7 linked regions of the Homo sapiens genome follow. The protein of the gene in region 5 purifies or fractionates together with the protein of the main gene of each other region. This does not show direct contact. Each region holds a gene or a part of one and is shown on either strand. Other genes may lie near its edges.

What was found.
Region 1: the proteins of CLN3 (region 5) and ARMC6 purify together in Homo sapiens (affinity purification with mass spectrometry; 2 studies listed by BioGRID and IntAct, with this or other methods). This does not show direct contact.
Region 2: the proteins of CLN3 (region 5) and HSD17B12 purify together in Homo sapiens (affinity purification with mass spectrometry; 2 studies listed by BioGRID and IntAct, with this or other methods). This does not show direct contact.
Region 3: the proteins of CLN3 (region 5) and GCN1 purify together in Homo sapiens (affinity purification with mass spectrometry; 2 studies listed by BioGRID and IntAct, with this or other methods). This does not show direct contact.
Region 4: the proteins of CLN3 (region 5) and TMPO purify together in Homo sapiens (affinity purification with mass spectrometry, with the first as the bait; one large-scale study listed by BioGRID). This does not show direct contact.
Region 6: the proteins of CLN3 (region 5) and COX15 purify together in Homo sapiens (affinity purification with mass spectrometry; 2 studies listed by BioGRID and IntAct, with this or other methods). This does not show direct contact.
Region 7: the proteins of CLN3 (region 5) and RCN2 purify together in Homo sapiens (affinity purification with mass spectrometry, with the first as the bait; one large-scale study listed by BioGRID). This does not show direct contact.

The regions. Positions count from the first base shown.
Region 1 is NC_000019.10:19,050,603-19,054,102, reverse strand, and holds part of ARMC6 (armadillo repeat-containing protein 6), read right to left. Parts: intron 2,482-3,500; coding exon 1,908-2,481; intron 1-1,907.
Region 2 is NC_000011.10:43,851,738-43,854,426, reverse strand, and holds part of HSD17B12 (very-long-chain 3-oxoacyl-CoA reductase), read right to left. Parts: intron 1-2,689. UniProt on the Homo sapiens protein: Catalyzes the second of the four reactions of the long-chain fatty acids elongation cycle. This endoplasmic reticulum-bound enzymatic process, allows the addition of two carbons to the chain of long- and very long-chain fatty acids/VLCFAs per cycle.
Region 3 is NC_000012.12:120,132,216-120,135,715, forward strand, and holds part of GCN1 (stalled ribosome sensor GCN1), read right to left. Parts: intron 2,512-3,500; coding exon 2,318-2,511; intron 2,191-2,317; coding exon 2,076-2,190; intron 1-2,075. UniProt on the Homo sapiens protein: Ribosome collision sensor that plays a key role in the RNF14-RNF25 translation quality control pathway, a pathway that takes place when a ribosome has stalled during translation, and which promotes ubiquitination and degradation of translation factors on stalled ribosomes.
Region 4 is NC_000012.12:98,539,590-98,543,089, reverse strand, and holds part of TMPO (thymopoietin), read right to left. Parts: intron 1-3,500. UniProt on the Homo sapiens protein: May help direct the assembly of the nuclear lamina and thereby help maintain the structural organization of the nuclear envelope. Possible receptor for attachment of lamin filaments to the inner nuclear membrane.
Region 5 is NC_000016.10:28,482,075-28,485,574, forward strand, and holds part of CLN3 (battenin), read right to left. Parts: intron 2,045-3,500; coding exon 1,932-2,044; intron 599-1,931; coding exon 552-598; intron 472-551; coding exon 403-471; intron 309-402; coding exon 253-308; intron 125-252; coding exon 31-124; intron 1-30.
Region 6 is NC_000010.11:99,725,628-99,729,127, forward strand, and holds part of COX15 (heme A synthase COX15), read right to left. Parts: intron 1,937-3,500; coding exon 1,814-1,936; intron 1,528-1,813; coding exon 1,341-1,527; intron 1-1,340. UniProt on the Homo sapiens protein: Catalyzes the second reaction in the biosynthesis of heme A, a prosthetic group of mitochondrial cytochrome c oxidase (CcO). Heme A is synthesized from heme B by two sequential enzymatic reactions catalyzed by heme O synthase (HOS) and heme A synthase (HAS).
Region 7 is NC_000015.10:76,938,249-76,941,748, reverse strand, and holds part of RCN2 (reticulocalbin-2 isoform a precursor), read right to left. Parts: intron 113-3,500; coding exon of another isoform or gene 59-112; intron 1-58.

The sequences.
Region 1 (3,500 bases), on a different chromosome or scaffold from region 5:
GGGCCCTCTGTTTTGGTGGAGATCCTGCTCCACTGGAAGAGTCCAGCCCTTCTGCCTATTGGAGTGGCCACGGGCACCAGGAAGGCCCCAGGGAACACCAGGGGCTACCTGGGCCTGCAGTGCCCCCTGCTGGCTGCTGGGAAGACTTAAGAATGTGCCCCCCAACCCGCTTCCTTCCATCATGCCCCAAATAAATTCCATACCAACTCATGGTCTCACCTAAAAAAAGAAAACTATAATAGTGCAAAAAAAAAAAAAGACATCTGAAGACTATTTTTATGATCATGGGGTAGGAATGGCTTCTCTAAGTGCAACAGGAAACTCCAGAACCATAGAGGGACACATACGGACTGGGCTGACGTGGCCAAAACTGAACACAGGAGCCGCAGATGGAGCCCAGAGGCGCTGCACCAGGAAGCAGGTGCCGGCACTCACGCCAAGAGGGCGAAGATCCTGCACCTACACAGGGCTGCGACGGTCAGTTCCTGTGACCACCTGTAGCCCTCTGCAGTTCCACCCAATGCCAATCTAGGTGTTGCCGTGGAGGTATTCTGTCCACATGGTTACCATCCACAATCAGCTATCTATTATTATTATTATTATTATTAATTTTTTTGAGACAGAGTCTCGCTTTGTCACCAAGGCTGGAGTGCAGTGGCGTGATCTTGGCTCACCACAATTTCTCCTTCCTAGGCTCAAGAGATCCTTGTGCCTCAGCCTCTCAAGTAACTGGGATTACAGGTGCCCACCACCACGCCCAGCAATTTTTGTATTTTTAGTAGAAACAGGGTTTCATCATGTTGCCCAGGCTGGTCTTGAACTCCTGGGCCCAAACAATCCTTCTACCTCAGCCTCCCAAAGTGCTGACATTACAGGCATGAGCCACCATGCCCAGCCCAGTTGCCTTTAAGTAGAGGAGATGACCTTGAACAATGTGAATGGGACTCATTCCATCAGCTGAAGTCCTTAGAAGGAAACTGAGGTGTTTCCCCGAAAAGGGGACTGCCTGGGGGTTTCCAGCCTGCCCTATGGAGTACAGACTTGCCATAATTGCATGATCCCATTCCTTACCAAAAAGTCTCTTCATATATACATATCCTGTCTCTGGCAGAAACCTAACTGATTGGAGCTCCTATAAATAAAACAGGAAAGATGTGAGCTACCTCCTGGAAAAGCAGCCTGACTTTGCAGAAGGTCGGGACTCATTTTCAGCCTTGCTGGAGGTGTGGAAGGGAGACTGAGGTGGGCCCATCTCCTCAGCAGACAGAGCCAGAACCCCCACACAGGCCTGGCCACAGAACCAGAGTGACGGGGCAGGCAAGAAAGGGGAACTCATCCTCCTAACACCTTCTGTGTGTCAATCAGGACTTTTCTGGTGGGTTCAGTGGATGGGATGGGGGTAGGGGTTAAGACAGAAGCTTTAGGGTCTGACGGTCAGCACTGTGACCTCCCAGGGCTGGCTCACCATGGTCACCCTGGAGCCAGACACATGAATATGCCTAAGGATTTGTGGCTGAATATGATCAAGCGTGTACACATCCAGCTGAGACTGCCATGGTGCATGCCAGCCAGCCCCCCCGAGTCCTCTTATTTCCCTCTGGGGAGGTCCCCCTTCCCCACTCTCAGCCCCTGGAGTTGGACACAGCAAGCCCCTTCCCCAGACAGCTCCAGAGATGGGATTGTGGCCTGCTCCTGGCCCCTGAGTGCTGGCCTGGAATTCTCCTGGAGCCACTAGAAAACATGGGGAGACTCTTCACGAGGGCTGCCATGCAGGCAGGTCTAAGCCGAGGGGCGAGTGGAGCCTTGAGCCTGCCGTGCCTAAAGCAGTCCTGAGCCCTGACCCTCACTCTGGTCACATCTGACCCGCCCACTTTGTTCGCTGGCTCGTGTCGGCCCCCAGCTCTTACCTTTGGTGGCTTCGATGAGCACCTTCAAGCCTTTGTTCTCCTGCACAATCATCTTGGCATGGTTGTGGGCATGGCCAAAGGGCACACGGATGTCGTCATCGAAGGTCATGACACGCAGGGCCCAGCAGGCTTCCCTGACCACGTCAGTGTGGTGGCCATGATGGGTGATGGCACCAGTCAGCAGAGGCAGCACGCCAGCTTTCACCAGGTCTTGCCGATTCTGTTCATGTTTCAGGCAAGCGTGACGCACACAGCGGATCCCAGAGCAGGTCAGGTCAGCCTCATCAGCATTCTGGGTCAGCGTGGCCACTAGGAGCTGCAGGCCCTGGGCATCCAGGAGGTCTGGCTGTCCATCAGTCAGCACCGACAGGGCATTGAGGGACTGGAGCAGAAGGCCCTGGTCACCTGCAGTGGCCAGCTTCCAGGCAGTGAAGATGATGGGGTAGGCCCCCTTCTGGGCCGCGAGGAAGCGGCAGGCCTTGTCCTGTTTGCACTGGTCGCAGAAGCGGGTGAGGTATGCTGACACCTCCTGGGGGCGAGAGCTGGCCACAGACTCCTGGAGGTCACTGAGCATCTGGGAGACATGGGAGAAACCTCAGCATCAGCTCAGGCAAGAGGAACCCATGGCCACAGCAACAGTGTCTGGACCCCTGCAAGGTTCCCTCCCCTGGGATCTGGGCCTGCAGTGGAAGTGATGTGGGGCAAGTTACAGCTCTGGCAACTTCCAGACCTGTGATTCTAGGAGCTTTGAGCTTCAGAGGCCATAGCGTGGAAGACTGACACACACACACACACACACACACACACACACACACACACAGAGAGAGAGAGAGAGATCCAGACAACTCAGTGTCCCTGCCGAAGGGCTGCACACATAAATGCAGACATATTAAACATTCCAGCCCTACCTGCCATCAAGAGGCCCCAAGCGATACCAGCAGAAGAACCATCCAGTTGAGCCCAACCAGGCAGAATCACAAGAAACAATAAGATGCCTGTTGTTTGGGTTGTTTGTCACACAGCTGTAACAAACTGGCACACCTGTCAATGGTCAGCTCTCCAAGGAAGGAGAAAGCCACATTCACCAGACATACCCATCCTGATGTCTCCTTTCATCTCTCTCATTCACTCCACAAACATTTATTGAGCACCTGCCAAATGTGGTTACACTGTACAGAGAGCAGATTTATCCAAATTCAACTCTAAGCCACTGGGGAGAAAATACTTTAAACAACTCAGATAAGTTTAGCTGCCATTCAACTACATGACCTCGGGACATGTCTTAGCATGAGCCAAAGATGAATCTGTGAGCCTGAAGTGTAGGAGATTATTTGCCCTCAGACTGAATCAGGGTGGTTCTACAGAAACCACCAGCCCAAAGGGCTTTGATTTGGCATTGACTGACACGAAAAACAAAGAAGCCTATGGGATAATCCTCACTGAGCTCAGATTTGTGGACCTAAGTATATGTTACAATGCAACAGGATATTTAAAAAGGTAAGTTTTTGCTAAAATGAGATTAGAACTGAAAAACAAAAAACAACAAAAATTAAGTTAACACCAGTGTGCATGACTAGAATAGACATTACTACA
Region 2 (2,689 bases), on a different chromosome or scaffold from region 5:
AATCCAGAGAGCACAGATTCAGGATAGGATACTTTTCACACTTAGTAAACTCAACATTGAGACAGAACCACCAAGTAGGAGATCTTTGATACTTTATTCTTCTAATGGGATAATGCCAACTTTCTCCATAATTTATGGCTAATTAAGCTTGTTCTATCAGCTTTGATCCTTCTAAAATAGACATCTTATTTCTCAGACTTGCGTTACTACTTTTCTTCCCTAGTTTCTCACCATTCTACTTCTGAGTTTTATAAACAATTTTATTGATAAGATAGAACCACCTCCCTTTTTTTCTTTTTTAGAAGAAACACAGTCTAACAATATGGAAACTGTTTGGGTAACTAAAAGACACCTGACTGGATGGGTGTAGGGTGACAAATCTGGACATGACCTTTAGAGGAACTTCAATAATGTTAGGTTCTTTATTGCTTAAGCTTGCTGCATTTTGGATGTGATTCAACACAGAGTATAAGGAAACCCTATTGTAACAAGTCCTGAGTCATGATACAAGAGGTCCTTCTGTAGTTTGAAATAACCTGGGCATGGTAGTTCAACAAAGAGTGAATGTATTGTTTATCTCACATGTGTGAAGTATCACTGCAATGATACTTCTTTTTTTCTTTTTCTTCTTTTTTTTTTGAGGCAGGGTTTTGCTTGTTGCTTAGGCTGGAGTGCGGTGGCACGATCATAGCTCACTGCAGCCTTGAGCTCTTGGGCTCAAGGGATCCTCCTGTCTCAGCCTTCTGAGTAGTTGGAACCACAGGTGTGCACCACCATGCCCAGCTAATTTAAAATTTTTTTTGTAGAGACAAGGTTTCAACATGCTGCCCAGGCTGGTCTCAAACTTCTGGGCTCATGTGATCCTCCCACTTCAGCCTCCCCAAGTGTCGGGATGACAGGTGTGAGCTACCACGCTTGGCCCAATGACACTTCCATTAAAGAAAAGGAATGGTTCTAACACATGGTGGTCAAAATCTTAAAATTTCAATCAAATTGAGATCTGTTCCATTCTATGGATTTCCGTCCTGCTGAGACCTAGAAGGAGTGGTCCCATGTCTCTGGTTTTTTTTTTTTTTTTTTTTTTTTTTTGAGACAGAGTCTCAGCGAGAGTCCCCAAGCTGGAGTGCAGTGGCGCGATCTCTGCTCACCACAAGTTCCGCCTCCTGGGTTCACACCATTCTCCTGCCTCAGCCTCCCCAGTAGCTGGGACTACAGGCGCCCGCCACCACGCCTGGCTAATTTTTTGTATTTTTAGTAGAGACAGGGTTTCACCATGTTAGCCAGGATGGTCTCGATCTCCTGACCTTGTGATGCACCCACCTCGGCCTCCAAAGTGCTGGGATTACAGGCGTGAGCCACCGCGCCCGGCCGTCTCTGGGTTTTTATGTACGTGTGTGCTTTGCATTTTTCCCACTCCGAAGTCTAAGTCAAGGAATGCAACCCACTCTCCTTGACAGGTTAGATGAAACCTCAGCCTCTTCATTAGAACCAAGAACCCCAGATGGAGTGCTGTCACTCTCTATCTTCCTCTTTCCTTGTTGCTGCAGCCACAGACTCATACTAAGTATGAAGTACTTCAATATTTGAGCCAACTTTGATTAGGTAACTTTTGATTTCTGAGAATTTGTTTATTGGGATTATCACTATATATTTATCCCTCACTTAGAAAAAAAAATTTTTTGTCACATCTTTTAAGGACCATTTTGCCACAAGGATATAGTCTATGAGAGCACACACTAGGGTGAGATCTCCGACTCAGACTGAGTAGGAAATGCAGAGTTCAGTGAGGCTCTCACAATGGGTCAGTAAAGAAAAGGTTATTTCCCAGAGTAAAGTTGAGCAGTAAGGAAAGAAAGAGTATATGTAAATACTCTGATCTCACATAATGAAGGAACATAAGCAAACCATTTCTCATTTCTATGCATTAGGTTTAAAGGTCACAAAATAGTGAAGATTAAAAAAAAAAACCCAAATATAGATCACAAGCCTGGTAAAGGTATTGTAAGATTTTGAGCTTCTAGAGGTAGAGATGGTCTAATCATTATACCTCTCAACTGCGTTATAATTTTTTGTTCCTTTCGTCCATCCTTTTTGCCATCTTCTTCCCTCCCTTCGTATGTAACATGGTATAAATTGGACTACTTTGATCTTGTAGGAGAATTAAGTTGCACTGCCTGACTGAACCACTTGGTGGTGCCACAAGTTAACTCTTCATGCAGCTAAACCATAGAGCTAGTCTAGAGAACCCCCAGATCAAGGGGTGGGGACAAGAGATGCATACTCAGGAATTCCAAGTTGGGTTATGTTTTTCCAGCTAAGAAATGTAAATTCTTTTCTAGAAAGTATATTTATTTCCACGATGGTTTAAAATCAAGGCAGTTAACATGGCCTAGTGGAGGGTTCAAAGACGAAACAGCGTTTGAGCTAAGTCTTAAATGAAGTGCAAGAATTTCCCTAATTGTAAACAAATAAGGGAACAGCAGGAGCCAAGAAAAGGAGCCACAGAAGAGCATGATGTTTTTCAGGGAACTGCATAGCTCAGGATGGTTCAAATGTTGGAAATGTGTGAAGAGTGGCAGGAGGGAGGCAAAACGGTACAGAAAACTGAATCCAATCACTGGGCAGTATCCATTTCTAGAACACAAGCTCCATGAAGGCTTGGTCATATTCATATATTTTAATGTTTTAG
Region 3 (3,500 bases), on a different chromosome or scaffold from region 5:
TTAAACATTACACAGCCAGCACTTCACTTAATTATAGAAAACCCCAGTGTGTATGCATATGGTAATCATCCTTGTAATAGCAGTAATAACTGTATTTACATAGCATCTTTCTTCTTAGGAAGGCTGAATGTTTCATATTTATTATCTCAATTACTATCAACAGCCCTGTGAGGCAGGGAGGGGCGGGAGGGGCAGGAGGGGAGGCACCTGCCCCCAGCCACCAGGGAAGCCGGCTAGAGACGGCCACTCTGAGCTCCTTTCTCCCACAGAGTTTGTGTCATCTTGTGGCCAGAATGACTCCTGCTATCTCCCTACTGCATGAGTGCCCCACTGCCACCGAAATTACTTGGGTTCATCCTAGGAAGTCAAACTAAAGCCACTAATCAAGCCAAGGAAGATAAGGAAAGGCAAGCACTTCCTGTTCAAATCAGAGCCAGGTACGCGAGCGGCTCCGTGCTCCTCCCTGGCCAGCTAACTATGGAATACCAAGAGAGGATTTTAAGTTATGTTCCTTATTACAGGTGCCAACTCAACATGTCCCCAAAACAAACCACCAACCAGGGACTCAATAACCCAAAAAGCTAATGCCAGGCTGGCACCCTGAACTGCCACCTTCAATCTGAGTGGAGGTTCAGAGGGTAAGAGAATGGACTGCCAGCAGTTTGGGCCTCTGAGCTCGAAGCAGAAGCCCAGGTGCCAAGCTAAAGCTGGCTCTGACACCGACTCTCTCCAACTTCATCTATTTTAAGCTGCACTGTGGTAAAATGCAAATATGTTTCAATACTAACTTTTGCTTGCACTGTACACATGACTCTGTAGAAGCCCTGAAAGACTGTGACCAAGACAGCAGACTTTCCTGTCTGTCCCCACAGAGAAGGCTGGGGCTGGAGTCCGACAGCTGGCGCCTGGGGACCAGAACTAGGCCTTTGGAGCCATGGGAAGTGCAGCAGCAAGTGTGTGTGTTGCAGGTGTGGGCAGGAGGAGTGTGTGTGGGTGTGTGTGTGTGTCAATGACGTGTAAAACCATGTGAGCCCAAAGGCCCTCTCCTCCTAGATTGGCCCTACAAAGTAAATTAGACCACAACAGAGGGCTGTCTGAAAAGGGAACAGAAAACTCTTCTCCATAGACTCAACTCCCTACTGGCCCCACAGTGCTCGCAGCCAAATATTTGACAGATGCTTCCAGACTAGGTGAGGCTGATGGAACTGGGACAGAACCAGGAGTCCAGGGCTTCTGGTTTGGACTCTACTACTTGCTGGGTATGGCCCAGACAAGTCTCACCCTCGAAAATAGACCTCTAAGACTTGCCACCGGGACACACCCTGGAGACCATTTATCCCACTACACACTAAGTTTCTTGAGGTCTGTGACCACGAGGTCTATGCACCTCTGGGATAGGCCCTTTAGCTCGGCAAATGTTTCACAAAACAATAAATAAACCTCTTCATTTTACAAAAGTGGAAATGAGAGGCAGACAGAGAAAGTGACTTCTTTAAGATCAGAGAGCAAATAGGTGAGAGGTCTGGGTCTCTACAAAGCTTACTTGCCTCATCTATAAAATAGAAATAACCGGCCGGGCGCGGTGGCTCATGCCTGTTAATCCCAGCACTTTCGGAGCCCGAGGCGGGTGGATCACCTGAGGTCAGGAGTTTGAGACCAGACTGACCAACATGGTGAAACCCTATCTCTACTAAAAGTACAAGTATTAGCTGGGTATGGTGGCGGACACCTGTAATCCCAGCTACTCGGGAGACCGAGGCAGGAGAATCGCTTGATAGGAGGCGGAGGCTGCAGTGAGCCGAGATTGTGCCACTTCACTCCGGCCTGGGTGACACAGCAAGACTCAGCCAAAAAACAAACAAACAAACGGAAATAACCAATATATCCACAATACCTGCCCCGTTTCCCTTGAAACCCGAGGAAATGTTGGTGAAGCATACAGGGTGATAGAAATGTCAGGAATGCTTATTACTACTGAGCTGTACTGGTTCTAACACAAAGTGAAGAACTCAACCTAAGGAGGAGGAGGGAAACCAGTGGTCCAGTGCTGCCACTAGTCCTGCCTGCAGCCGTACCTCATCGTGTCCCAGCATGCTCAGCAGGAGTGAGACGATGTTTTTCCGGATGACGGCATCCACTTTGGCCCCTGCTCCCTGAATCACAAACCTCAGGGCCTGCAGCATGGTGTCCCTGCAGAAGCAATGCACCGCCTTAAGCCCTGGGTGCCTCCACCACCACCCCTCCTGCCAGCGCAGGCTCGGCCCACAGCAACCCCTGGCCTCCTGGAGGCCACAGTGCTCCCTTGCCAGCGCCGTACCTGACACCTGGGTCCTCCATGGCGCGGATGCCATTGAGCAGCTCTGTGAAGAGGGGGTCCACCTTAATGTGGATGGAAATGAGCTTCCCCAGAGCATCTGCGGCCTTCAGGCGCACCCCCCGGTTGGAGTCCTGCAGGGCTTTGGTGAAAGTGGTCTGCAGCTGGGGCAGGAAGGGCTTCAGGGCAATCCCAACCTGTGGGAGGAACCCACATCCATGAAAGACAGTTGTGGTAGACCCAAAGCCACAGTGTACCACAGGCATGAGAACAAATGACAATCCCAAACCACCACAGCGAGTCCAGCTCTCATACAGGGCTGGGGACAGATAGCCCGTCAGAGAGGCCAAACACAGACAGGTTTCGCTTGGCCTCCTGGTCATATCCAGCATGCTTTGATACACTGGAGGAGCAGGAGGCCGAGGAGGCGGCGGCCGCTATCTGAGGGAGCTGTCTCGCAGCCTTGGCTGCGTTGGGGTTTGGCTTAGTGGAGACCTGTCCATATCGATAAGTGACTCAAATCCTCCTCTGAATACATTAACAAGCAGGGCAGACTATCGGCAGTACTGAAGCACAGTTCTAATGCCAAGACAGGGAAAGGGACTCAGTGTATAATTGCAGAGCCCATCTACTGAGCAACTGACAGCAGGATACGCACTCCACATTCAGCCCTCAGAACAAGCCTGTGAAACAAATGACCTTGGAGAATCCTCCCTGCACAAATGTGTACCCACCTAACTAAAAATCCAGTTCAACCCCTGACTATACAGAAACACAGGCACACTTTTGATACAATACAGGTGGGTCCAAGAGTAAAGATTTACTTACTGTTTTTTGTTTTGTTTTTTTTTTGAGACGGAGTTTCGCTCTTGTTGCCCAGGCTGGAGTGCAAGGCGCGATCTCAGCTCACTGCAACCTCCGCCTCCCGGGTTTAAGCAATTCTCCTGCCTCAGCCTCCTGAGTAGCTGGGATTACAGGCACCCGCCACAATGCCCGGCTAATTTTGTATTTTCAGTAGAGACAGGGTTTCTCCATGTTGGTCAGGCTGGTCTCGAACTCCCGACCTCAGGTAATCTGCCCACCTCGGCCTCCCAAAGTGCTGGGATTACAGGCTTGAGCCACCACGCCCGGCTTACTTATTGTTAATTAGGAAAACCAGAGTGACTGTTTGGAGGTTCAGTGCCAA
Region 4 (3,500 bases), on a different chromosome or scaffold from region 5:
AAAACCCCACAAGTTACAGACATAGTCTCATAAATCATGGTTTTGTATTTATCTATATTTGGAATTGATATTATAAGAGTTTTAAGTCACAATCTGAATCTCTGGGTTCCTCATCCTATCAATTAGGAAGTATTTGCTGAATGCAAAATTATTGTCAAAAGAGAAACTTGTAAACAAATTACAGACATACACAGAGTAACTGCTTTTTAATTTTTATTTTATTTATTTTTTTGAGACAGAATCTCGCTCTGTTGCCCAGGCTGGAGTACAGTGGTGCAATCTCCACTCACCGCAACCTCCACCTGCGAGGTTCAAGTGATTCTCCTGCCTCACCCTCCTGAGTAGCTGGGATTACAGGCACGCACCAGCACACTTGGCTGATTTTTTTGTATTTTCAGTAGAGACAGGGTTTTGCCATGTTGGCCAGGCTGGTCTCCTGACCTCAGGTGATCCACCCACCTGGGCCTCCCAAAGTGCGGGGATTACAGGTGTGAGCCACTGCACCTGGCCAGAGTAAGTGGTTTTTAATAGTCAAATTACCAACTATTTGAATAGACGGAAAGGTAGTTTTATAATCTGAGATTCTCAATCCTTGTGGCACAGTACCATCAAGGAGAGCTTTAAAAAAAAAAAAAAAAGCAAATGCCCCCAACTACCATAACCAATTAAATCAGAATCTCTCCAGGTCTGGGAATAGATAATTTCTAAAGCTCCTGAGATAACTAAAAGCCATCTTGAAGGCCTATCAATTTAAGTAAAACATGACCAATATGGTTACTCGTACTAACTTTATTAAAAAACAAAACAAAACAAAAAAGCCTCATATTCCTCCATTTGAGAACAGTACTTTCAAACACTGCTGGTGGGAATGCAAAATGCTTCAACTCATATGCAGAGAAATGTAATGGTGAAATTACCTAGCAATTTTACTGGTACGCTTCCCCAAGATAAACTGGCAAAAAATATGCAGTGACACATGCAAAATGCTGCTCCATGGTTCATCCTGGCATTATTCATAGCAACATACAGCTGAAAACAACTCAAATATTCACCAAATGGAGAGTGGTTAAATAAATTACAGTACATCCATAAAATGCAACACATAAAATGCAGTTGTACAAAGCAATGAGGAAGATGGCTACGTTCCGATATGGAGTGATCTCTAGGTTTAGGTTAAAAATGGAAATGTACAAAGCAGGCTGCATTTTATGTAAAAGGGGAGCATATAAAAATCTATATATTTACTTATATTTTTAAAAAGAAACAAAATATAAATCAAAACAATAAAAATGCTTATCTGTAGATGGAAGGGAAAAGGACAGAAGCCAAAATTCTGACTCTACCTTATTTTGCCTACATAAAACTACATTATACTCTCAACACAATTAAAAAATAATAAAAGAAAAAGCAATCCTAGCATTAGAGAACAAAAAAACCTAACTATTAAGTTGGTGGCTGTATGACACAAAAAAATTCTTTCAAGTGACTTTAAGCACAGTGTTTTGACATTACATTCTAGTGGGATATGTCCTAAAGACAAGGAAAACAAAAGCCCAAATTGCATTTAACAGTCTTATTGTTAGTAGTAATACTGTATTATTTAGAAACACATATATGTTGTGATACTTACATAAGTAACAACATCATTTGAAGAACCAAGATATTCAGCATAAGATAAAAATGATACAAGTATAACATAACCCAAAATTAGCCTGTATTTATAAATTTGAAATATCACCATTAATTCATGATTTACCTAGCACTACCTACTGAAAAGACCCAGAAACAATGACAACCAGTAGGAATGAACATGTCAGCATCCAAATTGTTGCTTCCAAATAGTATTATCTATTAAAAGGATCACGGTTCCTTAGAAACATGGCTGATTCCAGGCATGACGCAGGAAGTATACATGAGCCTGGGACGTCTTACTATTCCAGAAAACAAGAAACTATCAAAGATAAATGGGGGAAGGAATTAAAAAATACAGGAACCAACTTAGTAATTCCTAATGGCTACAGATGGCACAATGTGAACATCAAAAAAGAATGATGACTGTAACTGATCATAAATTCAATACATAAAAAAAACCTCAAAATAATAGACCTAGGCAATAATCATATGACAATGGCTGTTAGAACCATTAAATGAAAGGACAATGTGGATCTTTATAACAGATGGATTAATCTTTCAAAATCTAAATCAATTACTAATTTTAGCATCGCCAGAAAGACATTCTATACCTCCTAAAACGATGTAACAGGAAGGCCGCTATATCATTTAAGTATTCTTGTGAAAGAAACTGGACATGGATCTGACCAACCCTCTGGATCTGTGCCGTCCAATATGGTAGGCCACTAGCCACATATGGTCATTGAAATTTAATTTAAATTAAAATTAAAACATAGTTTCCGCCAGGCGCAGTGGCTCACGCCTGTAATCCCAGCATTTTGGGAGGCTGAGGCGGGTGGATCACCTGAGGTCGGGAGTTCGAGACCTGCCTGACCAACACGGAGAAACCCCGTCTCTACTAAAAATACAAAATTAGCCGGGCGTGGTGGCACATGCCTGTAATCCCAGCTACTCAGGAGGCTGAGGCAGGAGAATCGCTTGAACTTGGGAGGCAGAGGTTGTGGGGAGCTGAGATCACACCAACCTTGGCAAAAAGAATGAAACTCCATCTCAAAAAACAAACAAACAAAAACAAAAACAACAACAACAACAAAGCAAAACAGAGTTTCTCAGCCTCACTAGTCACCATCGAAGTATTCAATAGCTAGTGGCTACTGTAACGGATAGCACAGGTATGAAAAATTTCTATCACAGAAAGGTCTACTGCATAGCCTCACTACAGATCTAACCCACTCTACAGAAAATGCAGCGTATAGAGAAGCTAATTAAATGACATAAAGAAGCAACCTAACAAATCCAGAATGTTGGGAAATTCTGTAATGACCTGGTTTCTTCACCAAATAAATGGAGGGAAGAGAAAAAGTTACAGTGGTAACAGCTACAGACTTGAGAGAGTAAAACAACCAAAAATCAAACCGGATATGTGGATCCTGTCTGGATCCTGATTTGAACAACATAATCATAAACGAAACATTTCTGAAACTAGAGAAATTTAAACATGAATTAGATACAAATAAATTATTAATTTTATTAGGTGTGATATTGGCATTGTCACTGGAATAGCACTTATCTTTCAGAGATATATGCTAAAATGCTGACTTTTTAATGTGTGAAACACTATGTCAAAGACTGCTTTAATATACTCCAGGAAAAAGCAAAATAAAAAAAATCAAAAGCAATTTATTGCCAGGTGCGGTAGCTCATGCCTGTAATCCCAGCAATCTGGGAGGCCAAGGCGGGTGGATCACCTGAGGTCAGGAGTTCGAGACCAGCTTGGCCAACATGGTGAAACCTGGTCTCTACTAAGAATTCAAAAACTAGCTGGGCATGGTGGCGGGAACCTGTAATCCCAGCTACTCAGGAGGCTG
Region 5 (3,500 bases):
GGAGTGAAGTGAGGGGCAGGGGTTTGGTACCTGCAGCAGGGCCAGGGCCCAGGTGAAACGGATGCGACAGCAGCGGAGAGAAGAGCGGGAGGCAAAGACGCCAGCCTGGTACAGCATCTGGTACCTGAGGTTAGGGTTGGGGGGAGGAGAGGAGGCTCCTCCAGGGACCATCCCGCTCCCCCCGGTGCCTACTGGGCAGGGCAGCTGCATCACCACGGCGCCCTCCCAGCCCACTGCCCTCGCTCCTCTTACCAGCGGTATTGCTGAGCGTGACTCAGGGAAGTGTTCCAGAAAAAGAGGAGTTCAAACTGCAACAAATACCAGACAGGGGAGATGGACGGGGCTGTGTGGGTCCCAGCCCCAATCGCCACCTCCACACCCCTCCTAGCACCCCTCACTTACAAGTCCCTGGTTAATGAAATACTCGGCAAAGTAAACTACGACCAAGGGAACAATGTACCACAGCAGACCCTGGAAAAGGCAGAAGATATAAGCGGGGGGCCTGGAGGTGAGCAAGCCCCACAGGGACATACCCCAGCCATCATCCGAACCTTGAACACTGTCCACCTTTCCCGAAGGGAGAGGCTGGAGCTGGAGCCTGCAGGGGAACAGAGAGAGAAGGGCAGATGAAGTTTTCACACTGAAGACTCGGCAAAGAGGCACCGGTATGACAGAATTAACCAGACCACGCAACAGTGGGAACTCACTTCCATGCCACTGGATTGGACACTTAAAAATGGTTAAAATGGCTGGGCGCAGTGGCTCATGCTTGTAATCCCAGCACCTTGGGAGACTGAGGTGGGCGGATCACCTGAGGTCAGGAGTTCAAGACCACCCTGGCCAACATGGAGAAACCCCATCTCTACTAAAAATACAAAAATTAGCCATGTGTGGTGGCAGGTGTCTGTAGTCCCAGCTACTCGGGTGGCTGAGGCAGGAGAATCACTTGAACCCAGGAGGCAGAGGTTGTAGTGAGCTGAGATTGCGCCATTGCACTCCAGCCTGGGCAACAAGAGCGAAACTCCACCTCAAAAAAATAAAGTAAGATAAAAAATAATAAAATGGTAAACTTCAAGTAATATACATACTTTATCATGATGAAAATAAAAGCTAACCAGGTGAGACCTCTTCACGTCTCTTTGATTTTTAATTTTTTTTATTTTTTGAGACAGAGTCTCACTCAGTTGCCCAGGCTGCAGTGCAGTGGTGCAATCTCAGCTCACTGCAGCCTCTGCCTCCTGGGTTCAAGTGATTCTCGTGCCTCAGCTTCCCAAGTAGCTGGGACTACAGGCATGCACCACCACACCTGGCTAATTTTTTTATTTTTAGTAGAGACGGGGTTTTACCATGTTGGCCAGACTGGTCTCAAACTCTTGATCTCAAATGATCCATCTGCCTCAGCCTCCCAAAGTGCTGGGATTACAGGTATGAACCACCACGCCCGGCCAATGTCTCTTGTACAGCTCCACAGATGGCCATTGGCCCACCCTGCCCAGTCTCACTGGCCATTCTCTGGTTCTAGAACATCCCAGCTTATCCCCACCGCAGGGCCTCAGCACTTGTGATTGGAATGCCTGGCACATGGTAAGTACTCAATTAATATCCCTTCTTCTCTCCCTCCCTTCCTTCCTTTCTTTTCTTTTTTTTTTTTTTTTTTTTTTTTTTGCGACAAGGTCTTGCTCTGTTGCCCAGGCTGGACTCAGACTTCTGAGCTCAAGTGGTCCTCCTGCCTCAGCCTCCCAAAGTGCTGGGATATTACAGGCGTGAGCCACTGTGCTCGTCCTCAACAAGTATTTCTCAAATAGACAAAGGCTTTTCCCATAACCAGTACACTCACTCTCTTTCCCCTCTTAACTTTGCCTATTGCAGAGAGGAAAAGGCCAAACCCAGAGAGAAAGAAAGTGACCTCTCTGAGGGTCTGTGTCTCCTACCTGGCTTCGACTCCGGGGCCTCGGTTCTTATGAGGGGCTGCCGGGCTGCGCTCTCTGCTTCTTCTTCCCCTCCAGGGTCCTGGGCCTCAGGAGATGTGAGCAACAAGAAATAGCTAGGAGTAGGATGAAGGCAGGGTCAGAAAACCCTACTGGCTGGGAAGGTCCCCAGGGACCATCTAGGCCACTTTTCCCAGGGAACACCTCTACCTTTGAACACTTTCAAAGATGGGTAGCTCACTGCCTCTAAGGCTCCTACGCTGTGCGGGAGAGCTCCAATTGTGGACAAAGGCTTCTTTCTTTGGACCTGAATTTATCTCCTTATTCCTATTCATGGGCCTTCATTTTGTTTTGATTTTTTTCAGAGACAGGGTCTTTCTCCAGCATCCAGGCTGGAATGCAGTGGTGCAATCATAGCTCACTGCAGCCGCGACCTCCCAGGCTCAAGCAATCCTCCCGCCTCAGCCTCCCAAGTAGCGGGGACTACAGGCACGTGCCACCAAGCCCGCCTCATATTTTCCATTTTTTGTATAAATGGAGTCTCGCTATGTTGCCCAGGCTGGTCTCAAATTTCTAGCCTCTAGTGGTCCTCCAGCCTCAGCCTCCTAAAGCACTGGGATTACAGCTGTGAGCCACTGTGCTCAGCAGGCCCTTGTTCGGACTGCTGGCTCATACCTAGCGAGTCAGTTCTGTTTTCTGGCCATTATTATTCTAATGGTCGCTCTAGCTCCCATTAATTATACGTTCACTCTGTGCTAGGCCAGAACTTCCTCGATTTTAGTCACTTAGGTTCTGGCTTCATGTTATTTGCCATATCCATATTCCTCCTGTATATATATATTTTTACTTAATATTTTTCTTTAAATGGACTCACTTTTTCTACTTAGACTTGTCCTAAGCACTAATCTTGTGAAGGGCCAGGTGTGTCTGGCTAGTTCAAAGTGTGTGTTTTTTTTTTTTTTAGACGGAGTCTCGCTCTGTTGCCCAGCCTGGAGTGCAGTGGCACAATCACGGCTCACTGCAACCTCTGCCTCCTGGGTTCAAGCGATTCTTCTCCTCAGCCTCCCAAGTAGCTGGGACTACAGGCAAGCGCCACCAAGCCTGGCTAATTTTTGTATTTTTAGTAGAGACGGGGTTTCACCATATTGGCCAGGCTGGTCTCAAACTCCTGACCTCGTGGTGCGCCCGCCTCGGCCTCCCAAAGTGCTGGGATTACAGATGTGAGCCACCATGCCCGGCCAAAGTGTTTTGTAATATGCATGAAAATACACAGAACTAATCAGGCCGGGCGCGGTGGCTCACGCCTGTATTCCTAGCATTATGGGAGGCCAAGGCAGGTGGATCACTTGAGGTCAGGAGTTTGAGACCAGCCTGGCCAATACAGTGAAACCCCGTCTCTACTAAAAATATAAAAAATTAGCCAGGCATGGTGGCATGGGCCTGTAGTCCCAGCTACTCGGGAGGCTGAGGCAGGAGAATCACTAGAGCCCGGGAGGCCGAGGCTGCAGTGAGCTGAGATCACACCAGTCACTGCACTCCAGCCTGAGTGACACCATGAGACTCCGTCTCAAA
Region 6 (3,500 bases), on a different chromosome or scaffold from region 5:
CAGCTCGCTGCAACCTCCGCCTCCCCGGTTCAATCAATTCTTCTGCCTCAGCCTCCGAAATAGCTGGGACTACAGGCCCACGCCAGCATGCCCAGCTAATTTTGGTATTTTAGGTAGAGACAGGGTTTTACCATGTTGGCCAGGCTGGTCTGGAACTCCTGATCCCCCACCTTGGCTTCCGAAAGTGTTGGGATTACAGGTGTGAGCCACTGCACCCGGCCTTAATCCCTTCTAACTGACTCATTTTCTTACCACTTCTGAGTTAAATTAACCAATTAGCTTCCTCCTGATTAAATTTTGATGTTTCTTTGATGCCCTGATAATCTCCTTTAGGATCTCTAAACCTTGACCCAAATACTCCTATGTGTCTTCTCTTTTAATTTGTTGCTCAGTTTCACCCAACTTTTTTTTTTTCATCATTCTAGCAGTACTAACCTGTTAACTGTGGGAGTCTTTCCTTAAGAGGCGCTCAACTTACGTGATTTTAATTGCCATTTATATCTGAATATCTCTCAGCTACATGGGTATTCTACAATCCTTCATCCCACAAAGTGTTTCTCTCTTTTGGAATTTTCCTGTATGCTTCTGTGGCATTCTAGCACAGGGATCCCTCTTTCCTATAGCAGACAAGTTAGAAAAAGAGGAGAGACAAGAACCTAGGGAGACACCCATGATGGGAAACAAACTACATCTTGCAGCACATGAAAATATACTACTGAGTGCTTTACTGATTCCAGGCACTAAGCTAAGTACTTTAAATATGGATTATCTCATTTAATATTTACACGACTGTACATGGTGGCACTGTTATTATCCCCATTTACAGGTAAAGAAATCATAGCTTTCAGAGGTTAGGTAATTTACCCTAAGTGTCAGAGCTGGGGCTTGAAGCTAGGCCTGTGACACTAAAATGCATGCTCTTACCTATTCTATTAAAGTGCCTCAGAGATTATTTCCTTAAAAAGAATGCCAACTAGGGGCCGGGCGCAGTGGCTCACACCTGTAATCCCAGCACTTTGGGAGGCCAAGGCAGGCAGATCACGAGGTCAGGAGATCGAGACCATCCTGGCTAACATGGTGAAACCCCGTCTCTACTAAAAATACAAAAAATTAGCCAGGCATAGTGGCAGGTGCCTGCAGTCCCAGCTACCGAGAGGCTGAGGCAGGAGAATGGTATGAACCTGGGAGGCGGAGCTTGCAGTGAGCCGAGATCACGCGCCACTGCACTCCAGCCTGGGCGACACAGCGAGACTCCGTCTCAAAAAAAAAAAAAAAAAAACAATGCCAACTAGGAAGCTCCTGGGAGCATTTCTGGTTTCTCAACCTTGAATAAATCTTACCTGGAAGCAGACGAGGCCACAGAGGGCAAGAACACGTCCTTTCATGCCACGGCTGAGCCAGCCCTTTCTCCAAAAGTAGGCAGCAGGCAGGATGTACACAAGGCCTACAAGGCGACCCCACATTCGGTGTGAGTACTCCATGTACCAGATGAACTTGAATTCTGTCAGTGTCATATCATGATTCAAGCTGGGTGAAATGGAAAGTCAAAAAAGGAGGAGGAGGAAACATCCTTCTGATTTTTATTTTCTTACGGAATGCAAAACCTTTCTTTCTCAGTCCTGCAACTTGGTAGGTCTGCCCTCTTCCTCATCAACGACCTCAGGATGACTTTGGATTTGGGGGCTTAGAAGACAAGCTGACTAAACATAACTGAACCGAAGTTCATGAAATAATCTAACCATTCTGAAGGGTTTAAGTCCAAAAGATCAAATGGGCCTACTGGGATGTTTACCTAATTTTCTCTAATACTTACATTTTAAATTCTGGAAATTGCTGGTATCTTTGGAATTCTGCTTCCCATTCCTCTTGGCTTGTAGGTGGCTTCATCTCCTTTATTAAATGCCAATCTACCATCGAGAGGCCAGACTCTGTCAACCTTAGGATAGGAAAGAAATTTTGGGGTGTATGCGTGAGGCTGGATTACTCACAAAAGGTTTATAGCAACAAGTGGATCTGAACTTAACCTTGTTAAAGGTAAACACATTGTTTCCTTGTTTCCTCTTTTGAGACATTTCTCTGTTACTGCTTGGAATTTTGTCAGAAACAGCTGCCATCAGGTACAAATTTATTTACCCTTATATTCTCTCAATCCTTTTATTCAACTCTCCCCAATTCTTTTTTTTTTCCCAATTCTTCCTTTCACTAGCATTCCTCAACAGGTAAAATCAACCCCTACAGCCAAAGAAATGTGTTCTAAATGCATAACCAACATTCCTTACCCAGGGAAAAGAGACCTGTTACATGTATACAGGTTTAGATTCTTGGGTGAATTTAAAGACAATAAAATTCAAATTTGTTTCACTTGCTCATAACAACCTATATAACACATAAGGTATTTTGAAATAAGGGACGTGGAATGTGAAGAGAATTTGAGGAAGACACATTTGATTAAAACTAGAAACTTTTTTACCAAAAGGAATTAGGATTCCTAGAGTAAAAGCCTGATTTTAGGCCTGAGGCAAGAAATGCACAAGATGAGCTCGGAACATCTTGTCATACTAGAAAGTAAGGAAACTATCAAAGGTAATTAGGGCCCTGCCAAAAAGTCACTAGAGCCAATTTCAGGAGATGCCCACTGACTAAAGATGGGACAATCTGAGCAAATCACTAACACCATCATCACAACGGACCGAAACATTATCGAGTGTGTTTGAACCTATGATCTCATAATGAGCCTTAAAAATTCAAATCCTTTATTTGTTGCCTTTGGAGGATTTGGGGGACCAATTTATTATTTTGAAAATTGGTAAATAAAGGGAAAGAAGAATCAAGTATGTATCCTGCCTTTCCTATACAAACTATACCTTGGGATATCCAAACTGATGATGAGGGAAAGCTTTTTAGAGTTGAGCTAATAAAATATTATAATTTTGCTACGCTAATGAAATAATGGATCTAGGCAATGGTAATTAATGGCTGTTAACATCTATAATAGACACCAGATATTCACGAATGTTCTATTCACCTACTGAAGTATTTTGCTCCCTCATCCCTAATTTGAATCTGATCAACCAACTACTCATTCACAGGAAATAGACGGGACAAAGGAACATGTTAAATATCACACAGTTATGCAGTCAGCAAAATCTAAACTGTGCATAACCATAGGACAAATGACTAGAGTTTCCTCAGCAACTAGAAGAGGGGGAAAGGGAGGAGTGTCTAAATCTATAGTCTCTTGATAGATTTAAACAAACCTAAGAAACATGAACCAATTGTGATGTACAGAACTTCTTTGGGTTTAATTCAAACAAACTGTAAAAAAAGTTTTGAGACAAACTTGGACTCTGATTGAAAGAGAAAAGATACATAAACAATGCACAGGTACCAGTTAAGACATAAACCAGTCTTTATAGAAGGCTCCTACTAATAAAACACTCAACTGTTCTATGGCAGGGCAAGCCATCAGACATGTTCCTTCTTTAAGGCCTCGGTTTCTC
Region 7 (3,500 bases), on a different chromosome or scaffold from region 5:
GCTTTTTCTGGTTCACATTTCACGGCCATTTGAAGAACACAAAATAAGAATAGCTCACATTAAATCGAAGAAGCCAAAAACAGAAAGACTGTTTTTTACAAATGGCAAATTCCTAAAAAAATAACAAAAAAGATGGTCAGTTTCATAAAACTTCAACACTCTTTTTTTTTCTTGTATATAAAAACTTTGTATTCTAGTAGAGGGTAAAAAGTGTTAGGTACAGTAATAAAAAAGCTACCATAATCATTTATTTTTAGATTACAACAGAAACTTGTGAGGAACAAAACTGCCATCTTTTGGTAGACTAATGATTCTACATGAGGAAATATATAATGTGTGATACTAGAACAAATGACTAGGCATTAAAAATTCTGATTAGCCACATGCAAGGTTATATCTTACATAAATAAATACTGCTTATACATGCACATTCAGCAGTCACGCCTGTAATCCCAGCACTTTGGGAGGCCGAGGTGGGCAGATCACCTGAGGTCAGGAGTTCGTGACCAGCCTGGCCAACATGGTGAAACCCCATCTCTACTAAAAAATTAGCTGGGCATAGTGGCACACGCCTGTAGTCCCAGCTACTTGGGAGGCTGAGGCAGGACGATTGCTTGAACCTGGGAGGAAGAGGTTGCAGTGAGCCAAGATTGCCCCACTGCACTCCAGCGTGGGTGACAGAGCAAGACTCCGTCTCAAAACAAAAACAAAAACAAAAACAAAGAACACTTGAACTTTTGCCAGATAGATCCCCAAACTTTAATTATCCTGTGTTGACCATAACTGTTCTTTATATTATAAAGAAATGCTTCTTCAGGCATTTCACAGCCTGAAAGGGTTATCTTTATTCCCTATATGAAAACTTATTAAATATAAGATAAAATTCAGACTGGGCATGGTGGTTCACGCATGTAATCTCAGCACTTTGGGAGGCCAAGGCAGGTGGATCACTTGAGGTCAGGAGTTTGAGACCAGCCTGACCAACGTGGTGAAACTCAGTCTCTACTAAAAAAAACAAAAACAAAAACAAAAATCAGCCAGGTATGGTGGCACGTGCCTATAGTCCCAGCTACTCAGGAGGCTGAGGCAGGAGAATTGCTTGAATCTGGGAGGCTAAGACTGCAGTGAGCCGAGATTGCACCACTGCACTCCAGCCTGGGTGACAGAGCGACACTCCCTCTCAAAAAAAAAAAAAAAAAAAAGGTGAAGTTCAGATATTAAGCTGACTTTCGTCAGTTATAACAGACTTTCTTATAGAAAACTTTATTTTATTCACATATCCAATTACTTTTTATGATTATTTTATTTATGGTATAGTGTTTAGTCTATAACTTTGAGATTGATTCATTCCTCATCCGTTATTTTTTATTTAGAAAAATAATGCATATGGTTTCTGGGTTCATCTTTACACTCCACATCAATTTTTAGGACGTTATTTTTTTTTTTTAAAGGGACAAGGTTTCACTATGTTGTCCAGACTGGCCTCAAATTCCTGGGCTCAAGCAATCCTCCTACTTCAGCCTCCTGAGCAGCTGGGACTACACATACACACAGGAAGTTACTTATAGCAAATTCTAAAAACATATGATTAGAACTTCATGAAGATAGAGACATATTCCTAGGCTGTCAAAAAAAAAAATAACCAAAAGGACTCCCATTGAAGTGTTCATTTTCGGGATCAATCTATTCCTTTAGGCTGTTAAGATTCATCTAATTCATCCTTTAAAAGCAGAGTGTTATAATCAACACATTCTAAGTAGCTGGTGGAGAACACAGAATTAGAACCAGACACCTTTTAAAAGAACTGTTCATAAACAATTTATGAGTCATGTATCTCTTCAAAGTGAAGATTTTCTTCTCAGCACCATCTATTACATCACCCCCTTCTAAGAATACAGGAACATGCACTTCTTATTTTTTAATGGGATAGTAATTAAGTCTTTTGAGTAACAAAAAATAAAAATAGAAAACATAATTAGAATCTAATTCCAGCAAGATTTTAAAATACTGTATTTAACTTCTCTGTTGTTCCTAGGAAGGGAAACCACACCACACCATGCTTTGGTTTTAGATAAGTTACATTGGTTTAAGATAAGTTAATTCCTATAGTAAATGGGGATACTTAATAGACAGATGATCCCAAATCTCATTATCACTACTTGTTTTTCCTTTAGTATTTACAAGCAGTAAAAAGACTGATTTTTACTCACTTTAGTCCACTGTAGAATGAAGACCCAAATAAAAAGAAAACAAAAGATACATTTTCCCCTTAAAAAATAAAATCCTAACTAATCTAAAGCTGATAGTTAACAAATGCATAAAGTTTTAAAAAGTTGATTAAATATAAATTTATGTGAACTGTAAATGCTTTCTTCAATATTCTTTTAAATCAAAACAGAACTGCTTGCCCCTCCAACTGCTACCATTTATTAATATTTATCCACACTATTATAATCCTAAAGAGGAAATTTTTATTTATTTATTTATTTATTTATTTATTTATTTATTTATTTATTTTTAGAAATGAGGTCTCTCTGTTGCCCAGGCTGCAGTGTAGTGGCATAAATATGGCTCACCGCAGCCTTGACTGCCTGGGCTCGAGCAATCTTCCTGCCTCAGCCTCCCAAATAGCTGGGATCACAGGACGGACCATCATGCCCATCTAATTTTTAAATTTTGTTTGGGCATTTGTTAACTAGACAGCTTTAGATTAGTTAGGATTTAATTTTTAAGAGGAAAATGTATCCATAGGGACGGGGTCTTGCCACATTGCCCAGTTGTTCTCGAACTCTGGGCTCAAGTGATTCTCCCACCTTGGCTTCCCAAAGTGCTGAGATTACAGGTGTGAGCCACCACACCTGGCCTGAATGGGAATTATTATCCTCATTTTTGGAGATGAGGAAACTGAGGCACATGAAAGTTTAATAACTTGCCCAAAGTTACACAACCGTGAAGTGCTGGAGCTAAATGTGAAGCTAAGCAGACTGGCTCTGAGGATGGAGCCCCAAACCTCCACATTGATGCTGTAGTTATTAGCAGAGAATTAACCAACTTAGAGTTAGTGGTGGCTTACAGAGTTCAAGCGGCCAATATGATTCTAAATAAATAGCACACTTAGAAAGCATTTACCAAGGAGGGAATGGGGTGTTGTTTAACAGGTACAGAGTTTCAGCTTTCCAAGATGAAAAGAGTTCTGGGGATTAGCTGCACAACACTGTGAATGTACTTAACACTACTGAATGGTACACTTTAAAATGGTTACAATAGTAAATTTGTTATGCACTCCTCCCTCCATATTTGTGAGAAATTGGTTCCAGAACCTCCCACAGATACCAAAACCCAAGGATACTCAATTCCCTGATATAAAGTGGCATAGCATTTGCATATAACCTACACATATCTTCCCAAATATTTTAAATCATTTCTAGATTACTTATAAGACAAATTACAATTTAAATGAGGAGTAAATCATTGTTACACTATATTGTTTAATACAATAA